2 linked regions of the Homo sapiens genome follow. The protein of the gene in region 1 interacts with the protein of each later gene in a biochemical or structural test. Each region holds a gene or a part of one and is shown on either strand. Other genes may lie near its edges. The genes, in order: DCP1B and NSMAF.

The links.
Region 2: the proteins of DCP1B (region 1) and NSMAF form a complex in vitro, tested with the Homo sapiens proteins (one study listed by BioGRID and IntAct).

The regions. Positions count from the first base shown.
Region 1 is NC_000012.12:1,950,224-1,962,928, forward strand, and holds part of DCP1B (mRNA-decapping enzyme 1B), read right to left. Parts: intron 5,338-12,705; coding exon 5,209-5,337; intron 3,066-5,208; coding exon 2,193-3,065; intron 1-2,192. UniProt on the Homo sapiens protein: May play a role in the degradation of mRNAs, both in normal mRNA turnover and in nonsense-mediated mRNA decay. May remove the 7-methyl guanine cap structure from mRNA molecules, yielding a 5'-phosphorylated mRNA fragment and 7m-GDP.
Region 2 is NC_000008.11:58,598,492-58,611,196, reverse strand, and holds part of NSMAF (protein FAN), read left to right. Parts: intron 1-1,463; coding exon 1,464-1,593; coding exon of another isoform or gene 1,594-1,614; intron 1,615-3,356; coding exon 3,357-3,428; intron 3,429-5,161; coding exon 5,162-5,270; intron 5,271-7,786; coding exon of another isoform or gene 7,787-7,810; coding exon 7,811-7,987; intron 7,988-9,059; coding exon 9,060-9,139; intron 9,140-9,661; coding exon 9,662-9,752; intron 9,753-9,848; coding exon 9,849-9,912; intron 9,913-11,175; coding exon 11,176-11,227; intron 11,228-11,326; coding exon 11,327-11,447; coding exon of another isoform or gene 11,448-11,465; intron 11,466-11,700; exon of another isoform or gene 11,701-11,833; coding exon 11,834-11,965; intron 11,966-12,705. UniProt on the Homo sapiens protein: Couples the p55 TNF-receptor (TNF-R55 / TNFR1) to neutral sphingomyelinase (N-SMASE). Specifically binds to the N-smase activation domain of TNF-R55. May regulate ceramide production by N-SMASE.

The sequences.
Region 1 (12,705 bases):
AAGGCAGGCTGTTTCTTTTAACTTGTCCCTACATGACATTTCGAGGAGCGGTGCTGAGCAGTGATGCTCCCGGAGGTGGAGTCAAGCATTCTGAGCACAGCGTGGGCTGCTGAAATGCTTGCCTTTCTCACTCGGCTCTTGATATTTGTGAGTACTGAAAAGTCAAGGGAGTTGTACATCAGAAATTTAAGTCAGACTATATTCATCGCATGCTTCTAATTCTAAATCATCAAAGAGGAAAAAAGCAGACATTTTTAAAAAAGGGACAATAACACTGAAATGAGGGGGAGTGGGAGTTATAAATATTGTTTCTATAGCAGTCGGTACTCAGATTTGGGATGTTAATAAATAATAAATGAGAACACTTTGACTCAGGGGCTCACAAAGACTTTTGGCACATGCCTAAGGTCTTTGTTTTCAAAAAACTGAATTTTTTGTTTTGAGACAAGGTCTCACTCTACTGCCCAGGCTGGAGTGCAGTGGTGCAAACATGGCTGACTGCAGCCTCAACTTCTTGGGCTCAAGCAATCTTCCCACTTCAGCCTCCCAAGTAGCTGGGACCACAGTGGCATGCCACCATACCCGGCTAATTAAAAACAAAAAATTCTTGTAGAGACAGGGTCTATGTTGCCCAGGCTGGTCTGAAACTCCTAGGTTCAAGCGATTCTCCTATCTTAACCTCCAAAGTGCTGGGATTACAGGCACGAGTCACCATGCCCAGCCAAAAGTTCAAGATTTTTGAGAAACTGTTATAAGTTACATAACAGGCCAGGTGCAGTGGCTCACGACTGTAATCCCAGCACTCTGAGAGCCCGAGGTGGGTGGATCACCTGAGGTCAGAAGTTCGAGACCAGCCAGGCCAACATCGTGACACCTCGTCTCTACTAAAAAAATACAAAAAATTAGCCAGGTGTGGTGGCAGGTGCCTGTAATCCCTGCTACTCAGGAGGCTGAGGCAGCAGAATCGCCTGAACCCGGGAGGTGGAGGTTGCAGTGAGCCGAGATCGCACCATTGTACTCCAGCCTGGGCGACAAGAGTGAAACTCTGTCTCAAAAAACAAAAAAAGGTACATAACAAAACATGACAAAGGGCCAGTGATGATATATGTGATACACAGGGAGAACTTTCCAATTTTTAAACCCAATGTACTTTCAATGAATGTGTTCCAATCCAAAGGGAAAACAATTCAATGTCAGATCTCCAGATGTTACCCACAGGCAGATGATCAATAGCTTGTGGTTTCCTCACTGTCCCAAGTCAGTGATGGACATGGAAAAGCATCTTCTCTAAAGGAGAGAATCTTTCTAAAAACTGTCATATTTTCCCTCTCTGGCAGTTTGTGTGGGGGGTGGAGGTGGGTGGCATGCATACCTCTCCTGATCTACAGTAGGCTATACTGACGATACAGAGAAAGATAAAAACTGGCTGCACCTTTCAGGAGGAAATAGGCTGTTTTTTGTTTATTTCAAGAACCTACAGCATGGGCTGTGGGTAAGGAGTCTGTTTTCTTCATCATTATGTACCCACATGTAGACAATGCCTGACATGTAGTAAGTGCTCAAAAATATTTACTAAATAAGTGAATAATTTACTGTGGACTGAAAAACAAGAGGAGGTCAGTTGCTTGGCATTCCAGATTGATTTCAAGGCAGACCATACTAAGTTCCTACAGTCAAAAATTACGGTTTTCTCCCATGTCTGTGTTGGTCTTCAGACCTCCTAATATAACGAAGATTTAACTCTACAAGTAATGCTCTCAAAAAGGTTGGGGGAAGTTCTCAGATTGTTAACCAAAGTGAAGATTCTCCTTCCAGGTAGAAAGTTCAGGCAATCAAGATGCACGGAGGTGCACCCTGCTCCAAACAGAAATGTACGTGACACATTGGTCCCTAGAGCATGGAAGTGGACTCTACATTTCACTGCATTATAGTAATACCTTTTTCTTTGTCTGTCTTTTTTTTTCTTAACAGACAGGGTCTCGCTCTGTCACCCAGGCTGGAGTGCAGTGGCACGATCATGGTTCACTGTAACCTCCGCCTCTTGAGCTCAAGGGATCCTCCCACCTCAGCCTCCTCAGTAGCTGGTGCTATAGGCGTGTGACACCAAGCCTGGCTACTTTTTTTTTTTTTTTAGGGACAGGATCTTGCTATGCTGCCCAGGCTGTTTTATTTTGCCCCTGGTACATATTTACCTGGAAAAGAGGAGTCTGCTGTTCTGTGTTGGGTGTCTTGTTGATCCAGGATTCCAAGGGTTTCCCTGTTCCAGAGCTCTGAGCGAGCACAGGAAACTTAGCGGCCAAGGCTGGCCGGTTAGAGGCATGCAGCTGCTGCTCCTGCTGTACAATCTGAAGCTTCTTCAGTAACTCTTGAGGGGAGATCACTCCAGAGCTGCCAGTCTGACTACCAGAGATGGGGAGTGTTTGTCTTGGGAGTGTGGACTGTTCTCTTCCATGAGCCTGATGTCCTACTGTCTGAGGTGGAAGGGAGCCATTGAAATAGGCCTGTGGTGGCTGAGCCAGACCCTTTCCTGGAGCCACAGGGGTGACAGAAGTGGGAGCTCTGCTGCGGTTCAGGGCAGCTGAGCTGGCAGGTGCTGGTGTACTAGGGTCACACTTGTTTGCTGCCCCTGGGGTACTCTGAAGTTTCTCGAACAGGTTCTGAGTTCTGGAAGCATTTTGTACACCACGAGAAGTTCCAATGTTGTGAGGAGACCCTGGCTGGACAGGTCCTGTAAAAAATTCTCCCGCAGAATGGGTACTGCCATTTTCACAAGGCCGGTTTTCAGGCAGCTCTGACAATGGGTGGAGGTCTGCGCTCCTGACCATGAGTTTCTGAATGGCTGGACAGAGCTGCTTCTCAATGGGGGGTGAGTGTCTTCTGGGTTCCTCATAGGACAGGGAGCGTACAACCCCCTGCCTAATTGGAAGCTTCTCTTGCTGCTGCTGCTGCTGCTGCTGCTGCTGGTGGAGAGTCTGCGGAGGCTCCACAGTTTCCTGACATGTAGCTTTGTCCTGCTTCCCAAACAGAGCTGTCAAGGATAAGTGTTGGGGTTCAGGGTCTAAGGTCTGGAAAAAATAAAGATATCTGACATGAGTCTACAAACAATTTGGTTATATGAGGAAGTGCTATGAAACATAACTTATCTGATGACTTATTCTATTTACAAAGGATTGATTAGAGAGAATGAAAAATAATAATAATAAACTTGAAAAATGAGATCCCCTTTTTAATGTCAAAAATTTTCACAGCATGCTCCCCTTGCACCCCCAAAACAGTTATTATATTTTAATATCTGTTGACCGATAAAACAGGTATAAGATCTTCAAGGGCCTGGGGTTTCACAGATTGGGAACCACCTTGGTAGGAAATTATATGCACTAAAAAAATAAACAATCTGTTCAATAGGAAGCCCATCTAAGCCTGCAGAGTAATATGAGAATACAAAGGAATATAAGCATTTCAGAATTTCTAGTAGTTTTTCACAGAATTATGGAAATCAAGGGCTGGAAAGAAACGGAAGACTTTAAATCTAACTTGATCCTTTCAAATATATACTGGTAGGATTTAAAAAGTCCTTGGATACATAAAATCTACCTTGGCCCAGCCAGTTACAAAGCTACTTCCTTCTTGCTCTTTACTTCTGTTGCTTTCTGCATTGTTGCACTGAGAAAACATGAGGCTAGGCACAGTGGCTCATGCCTGTAATTCCTGCACTTTGGGAGGCCAAGGCAGGCAGACTGCTTGAGCTAAGGAGTTCAAGACCAGCCTGGGCAACATGGCAAAACCCCATCTCTACAAAAAATACAGAAATTGCCAGATGTGGCAGCACACGCCTGTAGTCCCAGCTACTTGGGAGGCTGAGGTGGGAGGATTGCTTGAGCCCAGGAGACACAAGTTGCAGTGAGCTGAGATGGTGCCACTGCACTCCAGCCCGGGTAACAGGAATGAAATCTGTCTCAAAAAAAAAAATAAAAGAGGAAAGAAAAAAAACCACAAGCTTCATTTTAAAGTCAACATATTCAGGTCTCGCTATTAAAATATAATAAAAACTTTCCATAAAACAAGCAATAAAAAGAAAGCTAAAAAATTAGAAGACTTCTTTTCTTTAAAAATTCAATATAAGATTTTCATTACTAGTCTTTATGTCTTTTGGCTCCATGTTCATTTTCAAAATTGATATAAACTAATTCCTTTAAGAAAATCTTTTTAATTAGTCATAGTCATGATAAAATGACACAGCAATATTATATTTACAATCATTAATGGGACCTACAGATTGACAATTTTTGTCATTGCTGTACTATTCTGAAGTGTATATATATATATATATACACTAACACAAAAGCTGCTGTAATATTTCTAATTTAGATTGCAAAGACAGTGACAAGTCATCATATCTGAAGAGGAGTTTTATACCATTCCTTTGGACTCTGAGCTCTCGGCGGCAGCTACCCCAGTCTACAGTGCTAGCTCTGCATCTGGCACAGAGGAGGTGCTCAGAAGTGCTCAAATCAACTCTGTGTCCTTGGTGGTTCTCCCAGGTGGCCTTGGGAAGCCACCCACCCCAGAAGAATATGGACCCAATGGGTAATGTTTCTGTCATCTCTGACAATGTTATTAGTTTTCTAGGGTGCTTGTTTGTTTGTTTTTGTTTTCTGAGACATGGTCTTGCTTTCTTGCCCAGGCTGGAGTGCAGTGGCGCATTCCATAGCTCACCGTAACCTCAAACTCCTAAGCTCAAGGGATCCTCCCGCCTCAGCCTCCAGAGCAGCTAGCACTACAGGTGCACGCCATCATGCCTGGCTAATTTTCCTGTAGAGATGGAGTCTCACTGTGTTGCCCAGGCTGCTCTCAAACTTCTGGCCTCAAATGATCCTCTCGCCTCAGCCTCTCAAAGTGCTGGGATTACAGGCTTGAGCCACTGTGCTGGCTTGTTGTTTTTTAAAAAATACATTATCTTTTAAGGAGTTCAAGTTCACAAGAGATTAGCACAGAATGTGGTATATGCCAAAAGTAAAAACTTTAACCCTCTTCTAGGAAGAGTAAGTTATTAATAATGAAAAAATCTGTATTCTGAAATCCCGCTTTCTTGGGTTTACCTGAAAGCATTCTTCAACAACACCAGGCCCTCCCCTGACTATATTCTGGGTCAAAGTTCTTTAAGAATTCTAGAGACACACTGAATATGACAAGCAGAGAACTCCGTACCTGGTTGGGCTGAGGTATACGCTGTTGCTGGTTTTCACTGGGTTTCACTGGAATTGGTTTGATGAGATTTGGATTGTCATAGATGGCAGAGGAACTGGTTATCTTTTTTGGCTCAGAACAGGTTTTACACTGAAATAGAAAAGAAAATCCCCTCATTTTTGGCTTAGAAAAGCTTTAGTCTTTTTAAAAGACTACCTTTTTACTTCTTATCTAATTGGTAGACGGCTGTGTTTTTGATAGATTTTCATGCACAAAGGAAAATCCCTTAAATTTCTCTAAGAGCTATGTTTGAGTATAAATCAAGTTAAAATTTAATTTTTCTTAGTTGGACAATTCAGTGCTCTAAATATTACTAACAACACCAGCCTCCAGGACCAGGGGTTCTTAAGACACCTGTATAATTGAAAGGTTCTGTGCTTAATATATTGACTATACGTTTAAATATATATAGTCTAATGTCTTTCAATGATAAACAAATATAGAAACCATTCCTTAAATAACATGTCTGGACAATTTAAGCAGTTGACTTAAAATTGGAGAGTAGTTGAGTACATTTCATCAAAGTAACTAAATCTTTTTTGGTCTACAAACCAAAAAGCTGACTCAAACCACTGATTTAAAAATTACTAACATCATCTTTATTTAATAAATGACTTCTTGCATAAACAGAGTAATTCAAATCTGAGCGTTCTGAGCTACTTACTACAAATTAGAATTTTGTAGAGAAAGAGACAAGAGACAAATCTCATCATTTCCAACACTGACTCATTATTATACATTAATCTAACCAACCATGCAATTGCTAACACAGTAGGATTCATAACAAAAAGAGCATGGCAATGATACTGGTGTCTAGTTTGCTAAAACACTAAATAAAACAATATAAAATGCTGCTTTCTGTACTACAGACTCTCTGAAGCATCATTTGTTTCCACTGTACAGCCAAGGCCTCAGGCCCCAAAATATTCCACACCTGACATGAAATGAAATATAAACACAATCTTGTCCCTCAGGAACCCAGCATTCCCAATGTGTTTTACAGTTATCAATGTGTATTCTCTAATCCAACGATCTGGGGGTGTGGCATCTATTACCACTGTATGCACTGTATGTGAGGTTAACCATACAAAAGATTCTCTTCCTCCAGGCATTCTATCAATAATTTGTATATTTAGCACAAGTATTACGTGGGATGCAAAATCACCTTATAAGTCATAAAGTGTTACTTCCAATTCTTCTTAGGTGAATGAGGGTATGGCGGCATGGACCAACTGGCATGGCTTTCCCAAGTCATGGATAACCAAGACAAGACAAGAATACAGGCTAACATTTAATCCCTTACACAATTTTGGCATGAAAAGCCTTGCTATTTAAAAGAACGTGAATGCTTCCTTTCTTTGAATGACGCTTTCTGTATTTCTTCTTTTTCTATGTTCAGAAACACTGAATTTCCGGCAAAGAAAGGCAGATTTTTCCCAGCTTCCCTATGCCCATATCCATATGGGCTAACAGGATGCTTTGTCTGTTGATATGAATAAGCCTGATAGCTTTTCCTAGTTAAAATGTTATCTCCAGAAGCTGTTTTCTGTGTCACTACAACTGCCTACCTACAAAACCTTGCTTTTATGTAACAATTGCTCCCTCTTATCAGAGTGCTCAGAATTAATCATCCACCTCAGTAGTTTGTAGCTCATTTTCCAGTTGTTTAATTTTGTATGCTTTTCCCGACCTAAATATCTTTAAAATCCTGGGGGGAAAAACAGTTTTTGAAAAAGCATATAATGGATTCTTCACAGAGAACCTGAGGCATTTCTTTAAAACTTCAAAAACTTCCTCTGTTGGATGCTGAGGTTAAAATACAATAAAACCTCAAAAAGTATGTCATATAATCCAGTTTTAATCACACACAAACACATACATACATAAACATATGTATTTATGCCAAGAGAGATGTTTGAAACAAAATACAATAAAAGTATAAAAAGTTTCTATCTTCAGTTTATAGGATTATTGGTGATTTTTCTTTTTATATTCTTTTGAATTCTATCATTCAACAAAAAAATTTCTATAATTTCATAAATAACTCACAGCTATATCCAGAAAAGAGCCAATAATTCTTGTCTTAAACCACAAAACACAAATAGTCCACTTCTGAATACTCCAAGCTTAACTATGCAGCCTGTAGATCATTTCTGGTCCTGCCTCTTGTTCTTACTAAAATTTGGTTATTTTACTGTTCACTTGCATCTCAACTAGAAATTGAATAGGGCGGAGATAAAAAGAGATGAAATGCAAATTAACATCTTTTCTACTTTAAAGCAGATTCACAGAAAGTTATTTCTCAAAAGAGAATGCACAAAATTTCAGCCAAAATAAGTTTTCAAATTATTTTATTAACCTCCTGTAAACTAGACAGACTTCACTTTACCCATATCATATATACTGATAGCTCAACATTTTTCCTACTTCCACTTCTTGGGATGTTCACAAATTTAAGAATTCTAGAGAGACTTAAGCGTAAGGCCTGAGACTATAAACCTCCTGGAAGGAAACAGGGGAAAAGCTCCCCAACGTCGCTCTGGGCAGACTTTTTCTATAAACCTCCTGGAAGGAAACAGGGGAAAAGCTCCCCAACGTCGCTCTGGGCAATGGCTTTTTCTATGAACCTCCTGGAAGGAAACAGGGGAAAAGCTCCCTAACGTCGCTCTGGGCAATGACTTTTTCTATAAACCTCCTGGAAGGAAACAGGGGAAAAGCTCCCTAACGTTGCTCTGGGCAATGACTTTTTCTATAAACCTCCTGGAAGGAAACAGGGGAAAAGCTCCCCAACGTTGCTCTGGGTAATGACTTTTTCTATAAACCTACTGGAAGAAGACAGGGGAAAAGCTCCCTAACGTCGCTCTGGGCAATGGCTTCTTCTATAAACCTCCTGGAAGAAGACAGGGGAAAAGCTCCCTAACGTCGCTCTGGGCAATGGCTTTTTCTATAAACCTCCTGGAAGGAAACAGGGGAAAAGCTCCCTAACGTCGCTCTGGGCAATGGCTTTTTCTATAAACCTCCTGGAAGAAGACAGGGGAAAAGCTCCCTAACGTCGCTCTGCGCAATGGCTTTTTCTATAAACCTCCTGGAAGAAGACAGGGGAAAAGCTCCCTAACGTCGCTCTGGGCAATGACTTTTTCTATAAACCTCCTGGAAGGAGACAGGGGAAAAGCTCCCCAACGTCGCTCTGGGCAATGACTTTTTCCATAAACCTCCCGGAAGGAGACAGGGGAAAAGCTCCCCAACGTCGCTCTGGGCAATGACTTTTTCTATAAACCTCCCGGAAGGAAACAGGGGAAAAGCTCCCCAACGTCGCTCTGGGCAATGGCTTTTTCTATAAACCTCCTGGAAGGAAACAGGGGAAAAGCTCCCCAACGTCGCTTTGGGCAATGACTTTTTCTATAAACCTCCTGGAAGGAAACAGGGGAAAAGCTCCCCAACGTCGCTCTGGGCAATGACTTTTTCTATAAACCTCCTGGAAGGAAACAGGGGAAAAGCTCCCCAACGTCGCTCTGGGCAATGACTTTTTCTATAAACCTCCTGGAAGGAAACAGGGGGAAAGCTCCCCAACGTTGCTCTGGGCAATGACTTTTTCTATAAACCTCCTGGAAGGAAACAGGGGGAAAGCTCCCCAACGTCGCTCTGGGCAATGACTTTTTCTATAAACCTCCTGGAAGGAAACAGGGGAAAAGCTCCCTAACGTTGCTCTGGGCAATGGCTTTTTCGATGTGACCCTAAGGACAGGCAACAAAAGCAAGAGACACACAGGATTACATCCAACCCAAGGCTGTTGCATAGCAAAGGAAACAGCAGAGTGAAGAGATGACCTATGGAGTGGAGGAAGATACCTGCACAACATACATACGATAAGAGATTCATGTCCAAAGTAGATAAGGAACTCAAACAACTCAACAGTAAGAAAAGAAAACAAATGTTCTGATCAAAATATAGACAAAGGGCCTGAGTGGACATTTTTCAAAAGAAGACATACATGTGGCCAATAGGTATGTGAAAAATGCTCGACATCGCTAATCATCAGGGAAATGCAAATTAAAACCACAGTGAAATATCACCTCAAACCTGGTAGAATGTCTACCATCAAAAAGGCAAAACATAAGTGGTGGCAAGGATGTACAGAAAAGGAAATCCTTGTATACTGTTGGTGGGAATATTAGTTAGCATAGCTATTATGGAAAATAGCATGTTGGGCCAGGTGCAGTGGCTCACGCCTGTAATCCCAGCACTTTGTGAGGCTGAGGCGGGCGGATCACGAGGTCAGCAGATCGAGACCATCCTGGCTAACACGGTGAAACCCCGTCTCTACTAAAAATACAAAAAAATTATCCGGGCATGGTGGAGGGCGCCTGTAGTCCCAGCTACTTGGGAGGCTGAGGTAGGAGAATGGCGTGAACCCAGGAGGTAGAGCTTGCCATGAGCCAAGATTGCTCCACTGCACTCCAGCTTGGGTGACAGAGCAAGACTCCGTCTCAAAAAAAAAAAAAAAAATTTATGTTGGCTCCTCAAAAAATTAGAAATAGAACTACCACATGATCGAAGAATCCCATTTCTGGGTATATATCCAGGGAAAATGAAATCAGTATGTTGAAGAGATAGCTGCATTCCTGTGTTCACCACAACATTACAATAGCCAATATATGGAATAAACCTAAGTGTTCATCAATGAATGAATGGATAAAGAAAATGTGGTGTATAAACACAATGGAATACTATTCAGCCTCAAAAAAGAAGGAAATTCTGTCATTTGCAACAACATGGATGAACCTGGAGGACATTACATTAGGTGAAATAAACCAGGCACAGAAAGGCAAGTACTGCATGATTTCACTCCTACATGAAATCCAGAGAAGCTGAACCCACTGAAGCACAGTAGGCTGGTAGTTGCCGGAGGCTGGGGGTAGGAGGATTTTGGAGATGTTGGTCAAAGGATACAAACTTTCAATTAGACAGGAGGAATAAGTTCAGGAGATTTATTGTACATCATGATGACTACAGTTAGTACTAATATATTGTATACTGAAAGTTGCTAAAAGAGTAGATTTTAATTATTTTTGCCACACAAAAATGATAAATATGTGAGGTAATACATGTGTTAATTAGCTTGATTTAGGCACCCTATAATATACATGCATATCAAAATATCATGTTGTATACCATACATAAATATATACAATTTTAATTTTTCATTGAAAATAATTTTAAAAAGAAAACTTCAATAAAAGTAAGTCTAGCACTGAAAACCATCTCAGAAGTCTTTTAGTTTAATACTTATCCAACACAAGCCAAATTCTTTTATCACATCACCAATATGTAACTGTTCAATCTCTTCTTGAACACTTTAAGTAACGGAGACTCACTTCCCAACAAGAACTCTGAAGGAACATTCTGTTTTCCTTCTCTCTCGCTACCTTTCCATTTCACCCCCTTTCTTCTGTCTCAGAACCACTTTACTCAGGGTCTCCACATTTTCTGAAATATCTGTGTGTGAGTGCAGAGACAACACAATGTAAGAAGGCGATGGAATGCTCTTTCCAAACATAAGGCACTGGCAGCTAGCAGGGTGCATGCACACCTAGTTAGGCCGGCCAAAAATAAGGTGATGGAAAAAGAACATCTGAAACAGGCCCTGAAAGCTGGATCATATTTTGATGGGTGAAGAAGGGGTGGGAACAGTATGAGAAAAGTCATGAAAGCACTCTCAGGAAGCAAAATGAGTATTCTGTTTGGCAGGAGTTTCAAATATTTGTAGAGGGTAGTAGGGTTAGAAGAACAAACTGAGGCCGTCTTAGGGAAGGCTTGAAGACTCCAAGGGTTCCTGTACTGGGCAATGACAAACCAAGAAAAACGGAGACTAGGAAAGTAGCGTGATCATGCAGGTGTCCTGGCACACTGTATCACAACATCTGGCTGTTAATGGAAGAAGAAATAATTTCCTCTATTATTTATCTCACAGTTGGAGCAACTGACATTACGCATAAAACAACATGTATTTGATTTTTACAGAAAAGCACCTTCTATACACGAATTAAGTGTCTGCACTTCATGTCAACATTATAACAAATCTGTGAGGGCATAAAGATGAACAGAACATTGTTTTAACTTCAACCAGTTTACAGTGTACTGGGAGAAGTTGACTTAATGTAATAAATGAGGAAGAACAAAATAAGTTTTAAATAGTAATAGACTGAGTTCACATGGAAGAATAATTAATTTGACTGAAGAGACCTGGGAAAACTCCACGTAAAAAGTGTCATTTTTACTAAGCCTTAAAGGATATGTAAATTCTGAAGGGTAAATAAAGTAAGGGGAAAAATATTCCAAGACATAGGCACAGTATAAAGTGATGGCCTAAATTAAATCTCCAGAACCGTATATGAGTGTTTCTGAGAGAGACAGAGAATGTGTGTGCTTGTGCTGTTCTTTTATGTGATGGTCACTCAAGTGAGGCCAGAGAGGAGACACAGGAGAGTCTCAGGAAAACAAAGTTTATTATACTCACAGGTCCTGGAGACAAGAGGCATGCCACGCTGCACAGGGCCACGTGTGGAAGCCTCAGGGTGTCAGCAGCAAGGGGAAGGCGTAGGCTAGAGCATTTACTGAATTTCCTCAAGGAAGGCAAGGCAGGGCATGGTAAACAGGTTAAGATTGGCCAGTTTGAATAACTCCAGCAGGCTCTAAACTGTATGAGTGGTCCCCAGTTGCTGGGTACCTGGCCCTGGGATGATTAAGGCAGAGGAATATTGTACAGGCCAGAGACGAGGAGATACGTATGGCTCAGGATTGGTTAGTGTGCATATTAAAGGCGTGCTCCTGGCCAAGCCCTTTGCTATCTCTGAACACTGGCTGGTCACAGGAGGGGCAGTCTCCCCAGCCAGAAAGGATTTTAAGATGTCAAAACATTATAACATATAGAAGATAAAAAACAGAAACAATACAAGGTATGTGTGTGTTGAGAGGAGGGAGGGAAAGAAAGGAAAATAATTTTTTTCAATATTTGTATTTATTTACCATTGTTACACTGTCTTCACAGAACATTAAGTTCCTGGAGGGCAGAAATGTCACCTTTTGAAGATTAATCTTTAGTGTGCATAATATAGTATAATTAATAAAGTATAACTAATTATTCAACTAGTTGCCAAGTCATCATAATTTTTTTTAATGACTTTTGAAGAATTAAAAAAACACAAAATGAATACAGAATAGTTACTGTCTGAAGCTGAGATTAAGGCATCTCTGTCCAGGCCATACAATAGAAGGATAATTAAACTGTGGCTCATTCACATTCATATTCCTTCCTTCACTCAATAGCCATTATTTAACACTCACCATGTGCTAAGTACTTTGAAGACAATAAGGGATATAAAAGTGAATAAAGGATGTTCTTCGTACTCAAGAAGCTCACAGTCAAGGCAAAGCATGTTAAAGAAACTTGTCTAACTG
Region 2 (12,705 bases), on another chromosome or scaffold:
GTCTGACACACCTTCTATAGAGTCTTTTCTCTCTTGAGCATGAGTCATATTTTCTTGCTTCTTTGTTATGCATTATAATTTTATTGTATTGTAATTTTTTTATTGAGCAGTTTGTTAAAAAGGAAGTGTTGAGACCGAACTAAATAATATTTACCTCCAGAAGTGGTCAAGCCACCTCTTATTCTGTCAGGCTACTTGTACAGGGAGGCTCTGTCAATCAAATCTGTCACTGAGCTGCATTAAGACTTTGTTGCACCTGTGGTTAAATTTAAGCCAACACTGCCTACAACTCTATTGAGGGAGTGATAAAGACTTTCTCTTCCACAGGACTTGGGATCTCAGCACTTGAAGGATTCTAGAGATATCTTTGTGCTTTATAACTGAGCCATCGGGTTTCTGAACTGTGGGAGATTTCCCTTGTTTTGCACCTCAGTCGACAGCATTTTTGGATCTCTGGGGAGCTTTCTTTGCTCTCCAGTCTCAACTCTGGCTTTCCATTTCCCTGAAGATCTCTCTTCATTCTGCAGCCCTTACTCACTTCTATCATAGGTTGCTCCTCCTCCTGCCACTCACCTGTTGATCTCTTCTTTCCTTTTTGCAATCATGTTCATTTAGGTTGCTTTACATGCTCAACATTCCAGTCGGTTTTAAAAAGCTATGAAGATTGTTCAGTATATCCAGCTCATTTTGGTTGTTAGGGTGAAAGCTTCAACAGTCTCTTACAGCTTTCCCATCCTAACTTGAGGTGGAGATCTTCCTCTGTATCTTTTTGTCCTGTCACTTATAAAGAGATTTATTTTTAACCCAGTTATTTCAGTAATTGCCTTAAAATGTTGATGATTTGGTTGTTTTCCCTTATTTTTTCTTAAATCAGTTAAAGCAGAATGAGAAGGGACTTTGTTGATTAAATATTTTAGGAGTGAGTAGTGAAGAGATCATTTTTCAGAGGTTTTCTGCAGTAAATTCACAGAGGGATATACTCAAAAATATACAAAGGAATATACAGTTACTCAAATGTATTATAATTCAAGTAATTATAATTATGTAGTCAGAGCCTTATAAAGTGTAGTGTGAAATAAATGCCACTTGTGTCAAAATGGTTTATAGGATGATAAAAATAATGACAGAAAAATAGGAAATAATTTAAATGTAAGAATAGTTTCAAGGCCTATTTATTTTGGGGGGAATGAGTTTAGCTAAGGGTTATTTGGTATTATTTACTTGTCTGTCATGGCTTCTGTGGTAGATAATCTCACCTATTTCTTTGAAAAATGAGTTTTTATCATGCCATTTCTAAAGAGTCAGTTTTATCTAAGCAATCAATTTATATTACCATTTTTCTTATATTAAATGTAGTGTTTAGACAAATGTCATAGAAAGTCACACTGTAGCTCCCTTAGATAAACCTAGAAAGTAGATCAATTTCTGATTTTTCTTACTTTTGCTGAAAAACCTATTTTCAGGTTCCAAAACATTTCTGAAAAGCTGCACATGGAATGCAAAGCAGAAATGGTGACGCCTCTGGTGACTAATCCTGGACACGTGTGCATCACGGACACAAACCTGTATTTTCAGCCCCTCAACGGCTACCCGGTGTGTAGACCACAGGGTCAGGTGGGGAGCTGCCCATGTTTAAGCTGTTTCCAGACCATGGCCTCACAATGCCAGGGACCTCACTTTTTGATGAGGATCAAGTCATGTCCCTGCCCACCCCCTTCACAGGCAGCATCTGTGTATTTTACAAACACCGTGTGTAATCGTGATGTGTAGTCTCTGAAGTTTGAGTTCTTCTGATCTGTTTTCAGTCATGTCAGGGGCACTTGCTCTCAGTGTGGTGAAAAGAAACCCTGCTCCTCCCTATTTTAGTAAAGGGTCGCTAGAGATTTAGACCTTTCTTCTAGGAGGCATTTCCTAGAGACCAGTGAAATATACTATGATTAATAAGAAATAGATTTTGAAATATATTTGCTTATATATACACAGATGTTGGTATTTCTTGCTTCTTCTTAATGATGAACAACCTCAGTAGATCTGAATTTTTCCTGAAGGAGCACTATGAGCAGGTCCTCCCAGCTAGTGCAGAGGTGTGTGTGGAGATCCTGCCGTCTGGCAGTTATGGGCTCCTGCTAGGATGTTGGAAACAATCTTCTCTTTCACAATGACACAGACTTACAAGGCCAGAAAATAAATATAAACTTAGATATCCATGCTGAAACTTGTAAAGATTTGTTGCTTATCTAGATCTGGCCACTTTTTAGCATGATCCATTAAAAGAACAGAAATCCTAACACACCCTGGTAGTGCTGTGGGGCCATTTGGCAGGGCCCAAGAATTCTGCCAGAGAAAGTTCCACCTTGGAAATTCTCCAGGCTGGTCATTACAGGGCACTAAAACATCTCAAACTCTCCTGAGTGAAAGATTATGCTATAGTGATTGTGTCCACTAGGTGGTGGGGCTCACTTTCCTAGTTCTCCAGTAGACACTGCATGCTGCTAGCACAGCATTCTCAGGGAGTGTAAAAAATTGGCTTGGCTGCTACTATTGCTTGGGTCAGAAATTTTGAGAAAAAATGTCTGTGTACCCTAGCTTCACAATCCATGGTATGGGCCTTTACCCCTTCCCAATACTGGCCAGGATCCTTGACCAGTCATTTCCAAGACCTGACTCTGGGACTCCGGGGCAGTTTCCACTGTTGGACAGACTGACCTCTGCACACCCATCTTCCCTCCTACTTGGGAGGAGGACCACGGAAGCATAGCCATTAGCCAATCTCTGCCTTTTTAAACCTCCTTTCTCTCTTACTAGTGTTTTAAAATTATAGAAAAGCAAGACAATTTTCTTCTTCATTAACAAAGAAAAAATTCAGAGGCCTTGCTTTATACTTTAGTAATCTGTGAGCCTTAATACACTGTAATTTTTAATGAGATAAAAGACAGGATTCTTTAAAAAAGATGTGTGTCAGTACTAAGCAAACTATTTGTCTAAAAAAAGATAGCAAGATTCCTGAGAGGTTATTTATGCCAGTTCTTTATATTTCTTATCACCCCACAATCTAACCTGAAAGATATCACCCCACCCCAAACTAACCTGAAATATCCCTGAAAGATAGATGATTGCATTATCATTTGCAGGGTGCCACATGGCGGGGAGGAAGACTTGCCCAAGGTCATAAAGCTAGTGAAAGATGGCAGAGCAGAATGGGAAACCAGATATCACCTTGTTCCAAGATTTCCTTTTCCAATGGTTTATTAGGAAAGCAAGATTTGGTGATTTTTTTTTCCCCTTTCTGATACTATAGAACAACTTCTAATTGTGTCAGAACAATAATGTTTGAGATTGTCTTTCTACTTTTAAAGAAACCTGTGGTCCAGATAACACTCCAAGATGTCCGCCGCATCTACAAAAGGAGGCACGGCCTCATGCCTCTGGTGAGTCCTTGGGAGGCTGTGCTGGGGCATGATTGTCACACTTTCAGTTTAGCCAGCAGTTTATTGACGGTAAACACTTATGGGATGTCTGAAAGTACAAGTACACTGTCCTGTAAGAAAATAGACTCTGATTTTGCTGTTCTTTCTTTTGGAGAAGGTAGAAATTCATAAAGGAATAACTCTTTCATGTAGAGAAGAGGTTCTATTATGAAGTATTTTTGGCTCCAAGAGCAAGAGGGCTAGAGTGCCCTTGAGTTTCTCATTCGTGCATTCTCAGTTTCTGGGCTCAGGCTAGAATGATCTGTGTAAAACCAACCCTGTGCTGTACTTGCCTCCACCATTCATAGCAGCTAGGTCTCAAAGCAAAATCTGGAAGATGTTACAAAATTACTTCTTTAGTGGAACTAGTATATTCACAGTTAACTTACATTAATTCAACCTTTGGGCTGAATGACAAAATAACCATGTAAAATCATATAGGCAGTTCCTTCCACCATTCCCTGAATAAGTGTATTTCTATACTTAGGTCCTATTTCCGACACATGTCTTACTTTAGTAACCAATCCCTACAGAAGGTATGATTCCAAGTGTTTTAATTCGACACCAATAGAAATTCATTTTTTCTCCTTTGAAGATTAACCAGTAACTTGGTGACATTACAAAAGCATTGTGGAATTTTAATTCTTATTTTTGTGCTTTTAATTTGTGAAATTCTACTGTTTTGCTTCCTATTTTACTTAAAAGGCCATTCCTCCATTTCCAGCACTAATAGCAGATCAGGGAAACAGATACTATTAAAAATCTCCTCTTTTGGGTATAGAGCTGCAGTCAGAAAAAGAGAAGAAATTAACATTGATTAAGTGCTTTCTATGTAACAGGCAATTTATATATAATGTTTCATTTATTCGCCATTATAAGCCTTGTGAAGTAGATAGTATTGTATTTTACAGGTGAAGAAATTGAGACTCCGGGGGTTAACTTCCTAAGCTCCCAGCTAGTACATGGTGAAAGCCTGTATTTGAACCAAGGGTAGCTCTGGGCTTTCATCCTGGCTTTGTCTGTTCCTTTGCTAGCTCAGCCTTACTAACACTATGGTCACAAAGCTCATAGGTTTTTATAAGATAATAATAATGTATTAATTGAATGGGTTATTCAATTATCAATTTGTTAGGTGTGCATAATTTTTATTTATTAGCTGGGCATGGTGCGCCTGTAGCCTTAGCTACTCGAGAGGCTGAGGTGGGAGGATCAATTGAGCCTGGGAGTTTGAGGCTGCAGTGAGCGGTGATCACACCATTGCACTCTAGCCTGGGCAACAGAGCAGGACCTGGTCTCAAAATATATATATGTTATTTAACTTATGAAAGAAAGCTAGACATTTATGTTTGAAGAAGAGATGTGAAGACATGGATCAGCTATTTTTGAATTTCAAAATAACAAGTTCACAAAAGCTATTATTAATGAAAATATTCAACACTCAAGGTGATTTACAAAGTTTAGCTGAGATACTATCTTGTTCTCAAAACATTTATAAATACAACATATATATATATACGCAAACGTATATGTGTATATATATCACTGAGTTAAATTTATAGATTGAAAATAGGAATATAAGTTATAAAAATAAACACAAATGTTTAACTGAATGTTTTTGTAATTATATACTTATATTGGGATTGCAAGATGAATACAATGCTATTTATTTTATTATTTTCTTTTTGAATTTATAGGGCTTGGAAGTATTTTGCACAGAAGATGATCTGTGTTCCGACATCTACCTAAAGTTCTATGAACCTCAAGATAGAGATGATCTCTATTTTTACATTGCCACATACCTAGGTTTGGCGCTCACCCTTCATTGTTTCTTTCTTTTTTTTTTTTTTTTGGAGGCTGAGTCTCGCTCTGTCACCCAGGCTGGAGTGCAGTGGCGTGATCTCGGCTCACTGCAACCTCCGCCTCCTGGGTTCAAGTGATTCTTGTGCCTCAGCCTCCCGAGTAGCTGGGACTACAGGTGCCCGCTACCACGCCAGGCTAATTTTTTTTGTATTTTTAGTAGAGACAGGGTTTCTTTTCATATGAAGGTAGTTCAACTCCTAAGGATCTGGGATAGGAAATAAGAGAAGAAAAATGCTATTTGTAGAATCGCCTCTTTGTGGGTCTAATTTCTTCTCATCAGTAACTATAATTGCCAAAATAATATTTTTAAAATTCTGGGAAATATAAATTCACTTTGATAATAGTTCATTCTGAATGTATGTTTTAAAAACTCTAGATAAATATATTTAAATGCTCTTATATTTTAACGTCCTCCAAATTGAATGGATTTTGAAGAATCCACTCAAATATTTTTATGTTCAGTCAGGTCTTATATTAGTTTATGAGAACCAAGACTCAGTTTTGTACTGCGAGGCAGTGAGTTATTCATATGTTTGTGATCATTGATTGTGGTCAGAACCACAAAGCTGAAAGACTGCAAAAGGAACATGTGAACCTTCTATGCTCAATATACTGACTTTGGAGTGGAATTTGCTTTTAATTAATGATATTTCCTCAGTTTTCCATGGAAAATGTGAATTTTCCCACCTTTGCCAGAGAAAATACTTATATTATGATGTTCAAGCCCAAAGTTTTTTTATTACATTGCAAGGCTAAATTAAATTATTCTAGTTTACAAAGTTGCTAGATAACTGGAAAGGAATTATCTTTAAAAATGGATTTTGGGGCTAGGCATGGTGGCTCATGACTGTAATCCCAGCACTTTCGGAGGCCGAGGAGGGAGAATCTCTTGAGCCCAGGAGTTCGAGACCAGCCTGGGCAACATGGCTTGACCTCATCTCTACAAAAACAATTAAAAATTAGCTGGGACTGGTGGCGTGTGCCTGTAGTCCCAGCTACTCGAGAGGCTGAAGTGGGAGGATCGCTTGAGCCTGGGAGGTCAAGGCTGCAGTGGGCAGTGATCACACCACTGCAATTCAGCCTGGGTGACAGAGTGAGACCCTGTCTCAAAAAAACAAACAAACAAAAAAGGATATTGGGATTTTATTAATATCATCTTAATGTGTTTGTTATTTTAGTGTACCACAAAACTATTTGTGAAATTTGTAGTAAAGTACATCTTCCCTTAGAAATGAAATTTTACTTCAAGGAGGAATACTTGGCTTTCAGTAGGGAACATATTTTATTTTAAAGTAGGTTTATATATATATATTATATATATCTATGTAGTTATATATAGTTTATATATAGTTATATATAGCTAGTATTTTATTCATACATTAAGCTATTGAAGGTAACTTTATGTATAAGTATAGCTTTGTTACAAGTTTACTTTAATTTCCTGTCTCATGATCTAGGTTTTTAAATTTTATTTTTTTTAACTATAACAAGATTACAATAAAAAGATCAACTTTCATGGTGAGTCCTAAAATCTCAAGCCAAAAACTTTGCCATGATCTAAAATATCCATTTTCTAAGAAACTGTCAGTTCTCACTGAGTTTATTCCTAAGATTGTTCATACTTTTTCTGAGGGGTTTCAAAAGTAGAAAACGAGGGGGAAGTGTGTTTTGATTTTTGAAGCCCTTTCCTAGTAGCTGATTAAAGAAGAAACTTGGTAAAAGTAGATGAGAATAAATATTAAGAGTTAAGATGCTTAATGCATCAGGAAAGGTTGAAAGCAGAATTTTCTGAACAAAATGGAAAATCCACTTGTAGGACAGTTAATTCATTTTACACTCTGAAAGGGAAGTTCTCATTGCTGCATTTATCTAAGATCTCATTTTTCCTGAGGTATTTCAGGGGGCAGGTCTGGTTCTTTTAGTTTGAGAATTGGTCCTCCTGCCAAACGCCTGTTTTCTTCTTTAACAATTTCTTTTCTTTTCCTTAGTCTTCACATGCATAAATAATATGTAGTCATTGACAAATTAGCAGTAGTACATCTCTTCCAAGCCTAAAAGAAAACTAAAAGATTGCTTTAATTTCATAAATAATAAAAGAAATAAGCTTTCCCAGATGGCCATGGGTTTTTAAATGCATGGAGACAGCACATTTGGAGGGATTCTTTGTTACTGTATAAATATTACCTATTAACATGTAATATTTATATATTTGCGCTACACTTTTGTATTTGTTTAGGTTATGTCATATTGTGGAGGGTAGTGTAATAGCTCAGTGTATTTAATAATTTCCCCTCCTTGATCTTGGAACTGTTTATACATAGCTGAACAAATACTTTATGAAAACAAGTCAGCAGCCTACTTTTCTTTTTCTTACAATGCATTTTTCAAGAATGCACAGGGATGGTCTACACGTTAAGCCCCTAGCTTTTGCATACTAAGTTTGCGAAGTTAAGTGGCAGACCTCGTGGGTCCTCTTCCCCCAGAGCACCATGTGGCGGAGCACACTGCTGAGAGCTACATGCTGCAGTGGCAGCGTGGACACCTTTCCAACTATCAGTACCTCCTTCACCTCAACAACCTGGCCGACCGCAGCTGCAACGACCTCTCCCAGTACCCTGTGTTTCCATGGATAATACATGATTATTCCAGCTCAGAACTAGGTAACTGCCACACGTGGAATTCTGACCAAGTTGAGTGGGGAGTAGTCATCTGTATTGTTTTTAAAGGACAGAATAAATTCTATTTTATAATTGTGATGTGACATGTGAACAAATTACAACTCATTTCAGTTGTATTGCTAAGGACTGCCAATTTCCATTCCAGGATACTATATAAGTGTTACGTAAGTGTTTCATGTATGTTTTTTCCACCATACTTCTTGAAGGACACACACAGAAAAAATGGGCATGATTTTAACCCAGGGTTATCATTATTACCTATAAGTACCACGTTTTGAAATATTTGCTTCTCACTTTGAAAATTTCACTCACCTTATATTATTTTTAAAAATCACATTAAAAACTGTGATTATTTGTTATAGAACACTTGGAAAGTCCTGAAATAATCAAAGAAGAAAATTAAAATCATCCATAATTATATTACAGAGATAACCACTTTACCTTTGGGGTATATCTACTCTTCTCTTGCTACCACAGATTATTTTAAGAAAAATGTAATTGTATTGTAACTTTATTTTGTAATATTTAAAAATTATATATTGTGAACAGTTAGTTCCTCTTGACACATTATCTTGAACCTTTGTCCTTGAAAGAGATAATAGATTTTCTAGAAATATGATAAAGTATTTCTCTGAAAATATTTAGCTCACTAGTTCTCAAATAGGCTAATATTGAAGAATAATAATATTCACTAGAATTCGAATGTAGAAAGTAAATCTTGGTAGAAGAATAATGGCTTTTAAAATTTTGTTGTTGTTGTTGTTTTACTTGGAATATATATATGTTCCTTAATCAGAAACTTTTTTAAAAAAATTAATGTTCAGGGCATTGTCAAATTAGAGATATTGCTCTTAAGTGGTTGTGTCTAACTTAAAACTCAAAATTGCTAACCTTTTCTTTACATCTACATAAATAACTAACAAAAATAACTCTCATGGATTGCTCTCAATTTTTAAAAAAACTTTTGTGGAAGTAAATGTGTATATTTGAATTAATTCAGGAGGTTAATGGTACTAAGTATAAGCTGAAGTTATTTATTGATTTATGTTTATAGATTTGTCAAATCCAGGAACCTTCCGGGATCTCAGTAAGCCAGTAGGGGCCCTAAATAAGGAACGGCTGGAGAGACTACTGGTATGTGGACTTAGAGATTCTTGGTTTCTAAGCAACACGAGAAGCCATGGCCTGTGTTTTTATGGAAGGAAATTCGTTTCTCCAAGGCTTAGGGGAATTATACCAGTGACTCTACGTAGAGTTTTTTCTTACTTTTCTCCTGACCGTGAATTAGCTGCTCACCATTTGCATTTCTTGTCTGCAGTTTAGGAAGGAGGAGGGCAACCTGTTTACAGGTTCACTGAATTATTTTCATGAAGGCATTCTGTGGTAAATCGCATAAGAGACACATAAAATCAGTTCTATTTAATCTAGTGCCAACATTTTGTTACCATTAAGCCAGGGAAACCAAAATACTTGTCTCAGGAATGCTGTTTAGCCACAGATTTTCTTTCCCTCTTATCTTCTCCTTTTCTTATCTAACAGAGAAATTAAGGAATATGGTATATCTATGTTATGATTTCTTTTAGGCTTTTTCTACTTGTCAGTTATTATTTCATAGCCAACACTTAGCTCTATTTTTTTTTTTTTTCTGTATTCTAGACACGCTACCAGGAAATGCCTGAACCAAAGTTCATGTATGGGAGTCACTACTCTTCCCCGGGTTATGTACTTTTTTATCTTGTTAGGATTGGTAAGATTCTTTATCATTACCCCCAATTAAATTTTATTTCACTGTATTCTTCAATGATTCTGTGACCTGACTTACCTCTGACTTTTTCCCCTCTAGCACCAGAGTATATGCTGTGCCTGCAGAATGGAAGATTTGATAATGCAGATAGAATGTTCAACAGGTTTGATACAAATGCCTTGCTTATCATTTTTAACACTTTCTGATTGTATATATACAACATACTTGTTTCAAAGCACTGGATATAATAAAAAAGTAAAGAAATGTAAAAAATCACTAATTGTTCTATCTATTCCTCTCAGGCTTTTTCTAGACATGTATATGTGTGTGTAAATGTGAGAACATATTTTATGTACAGCTTTTTGTCCTACCTTTTGTAGCCTAATATTAAATCTTAAAGTTTTTCCCATATTATTAGATATTCTTCAAAACAATGATTCTTTTTTAAAATTATTGTATCACATTCTAACATATGCCATATTTTATGTCAACTTCTTTTCTCCATTGTTGGGCATTTAGATTGTTTCCCACACTTTATTATTCTTGATAATTTTGCTGTGAATTGAATACAGCTCCCTGTGTGTATTTAGATGGCTTTACTTTTTAAATTATAAAAGTAATATTTTCTTGCCAAAAAAATCAGCAACTATAAAAAAGGAAATAAGTTTACTTGGTATCCCACCACACTGAGATAATAATTGTTGTAAATTTTTTGGTATGTCCTTTTCATTTTTTTTGAACTCTACACATATCTAATAATAATTCCTTTTGCAATGAGCCATTCAGATAGTGGTGCTAATCTTTTTTTTTTTTTTTTTTTTTTTTTGAGACAGAGTCTTGCTCTGTCGCCCAGGCTGGAGTACAGTGAGCAGAATCTCAGCTCACTGCAACCTCCGCCTCGGGTTCAAGCGATTCTCCTGCTTCAGTCTCCTGAGTAGCTGGGACTACAGGCGCATGCCACCACGCCCAGCTAATTTTTGTATTTTTAGTAGAGATGAGGTTTCACCATGTTGGCCAGGATGGTCTTGATCTCCTGACTTCGTGATCCACCCGCCTTGGCCTCCCAAAGTACTGAGATTACAGGTGTGAGCCACCGCGCCCTACCAGTGGTGCTAATCTTTCAGTGTGGAGGCACCCTGCTCCATTTGGCCCTTGGATGAGGCAATGTGTATATGGTAGCTAATGGTGTGGACTCGGACTCTATGCCCACTCCCGCCATGTGACCCTGGAGAAGTTACATAAACTCTCTGGGCCCCAGTGTTCCCTTTTGTTAAAGTGGGACACTCAGAGAGATGGTTAGAACTATGTGGAAATGACAAACAGAAGTTAATACAGGTAAAGTGTAGAACAGCCCCCAAGTGCATAGGAAATGCTGCTATTGCTATTTCCTTAGCTGAAAATAGGTGAATTTTTTTTTCATATGTAGTATTGCAGAAACTTGGAAAAACTGTCTGGATGGTGCAACGGATTTTAAAGAGGTAAGCAGTTAATAAAGCTGATGAGTAACTGGACTTGGGGTTTCTAACTGCTTTAAAACATGTTTGTTGTTCTTTTTTATTTTTCCCCGAAACTTTCAGTTAATTCCAGAATTCTATGGTGATGATGTGAGCTTTCTAGTCAATAGCCTGAAGTTGGATTTGGGAAAGAGACAAGGAGGACAGATGGTTGACGACGTGGAGCTTCCCCCTTGGGCTTCCAGTGAGTCCCCCCTTGGAGGTGTTGTATTATAGACATGCTTTACCAAGTAGTGCAATTTCAGTAATTATTTTATTGCTTAGATTTTTAAAAATCACAATATAATTCTCTAAATAAGGATATATGAGCCCTATTCCATATCAGAAGTATTCTATGAGTCTGTGATGTAAAAACATTAATATATATTTGAGAGACCTTAATGTGAAAATGATTCTTGCCACTTTTTTCCCCAAAAAACTTACATTTCATATGATAGAAAAAGAAAACTGCATTAAGAAATATGGACCTCTTGCCTGTCCTAGAAGCTTTATATACATATAGATAGACAAGAGAAATGGGAGGAAAAAAATGAAGACTCCATGATTTTTCGATTGAGTCTAATCTAATAGGTCCCGAGGACTTTCTCCAGAAGAGCAAAGATGCATTGGAAAGCAATTATGTGTCTGAACACCTTCACGAGTGGATTGATCTAATATTTGGCTACAAACAAAAAGGGAGTGATGCAGTTGGGGCCCATAATGGTATGTAATATTCATTGAAATTTTATTTAGCATTGGGTGAATATTTAGCATTATTCATTTTCATTGGAAAATGAAAGCAAACAATACCAACAAAAAAATGAGGCCAAAGCAATTAGTCTTATTTCTTCAGTGGAAGCATGTTCTGTCAGACTCCAGCGTCCACTGGCTGCATGACCCTGGATCAGATATTTTTTTGGTTTTCTTTTTGAGATGGAGTCTTGCTCTGTCACCAGGCTGGAGTGCAGTGACACAATCTTGGCTTACTGCAACCTCCGACTCCCTGGTTCGAGTGATTCTACTGCCTCAGCCTCCCGAGTAGCTGGGATTACAGGCACCTGCCATCATGCCCAGCTAATTTTTTTGTATTTTTTTTGGTCGTGACGGTTTCACCATGTTGGCCAGGTTGGTCTCAAACTCCTGACCTCAGGTGATCTGCCCACCTCGGCCTCCCAAAGTGCTGGGATTACAGGTGTGAGCCACTGCGCCCAGCCCCTGGATTAGATATTGAGTAACTGACAAGGAGGGAGGACTTTTGCCCAAATAATACCAAATTCATCCTGGCCCCAAGAGGTCTTTTTATAAAGTCTTCTAATTTTAGCATATACTCTACATCCCACTGAATAATTTCAATTAAAACTCTATTACAGTGTGATAGAACAGTGGCCTCAATTCCTATGGAAGACCCAGAGTTTCTTTTCCTTTTCTTTTCTTTTTTTTTTCTTTTTTTTTTTTTTTTTTTT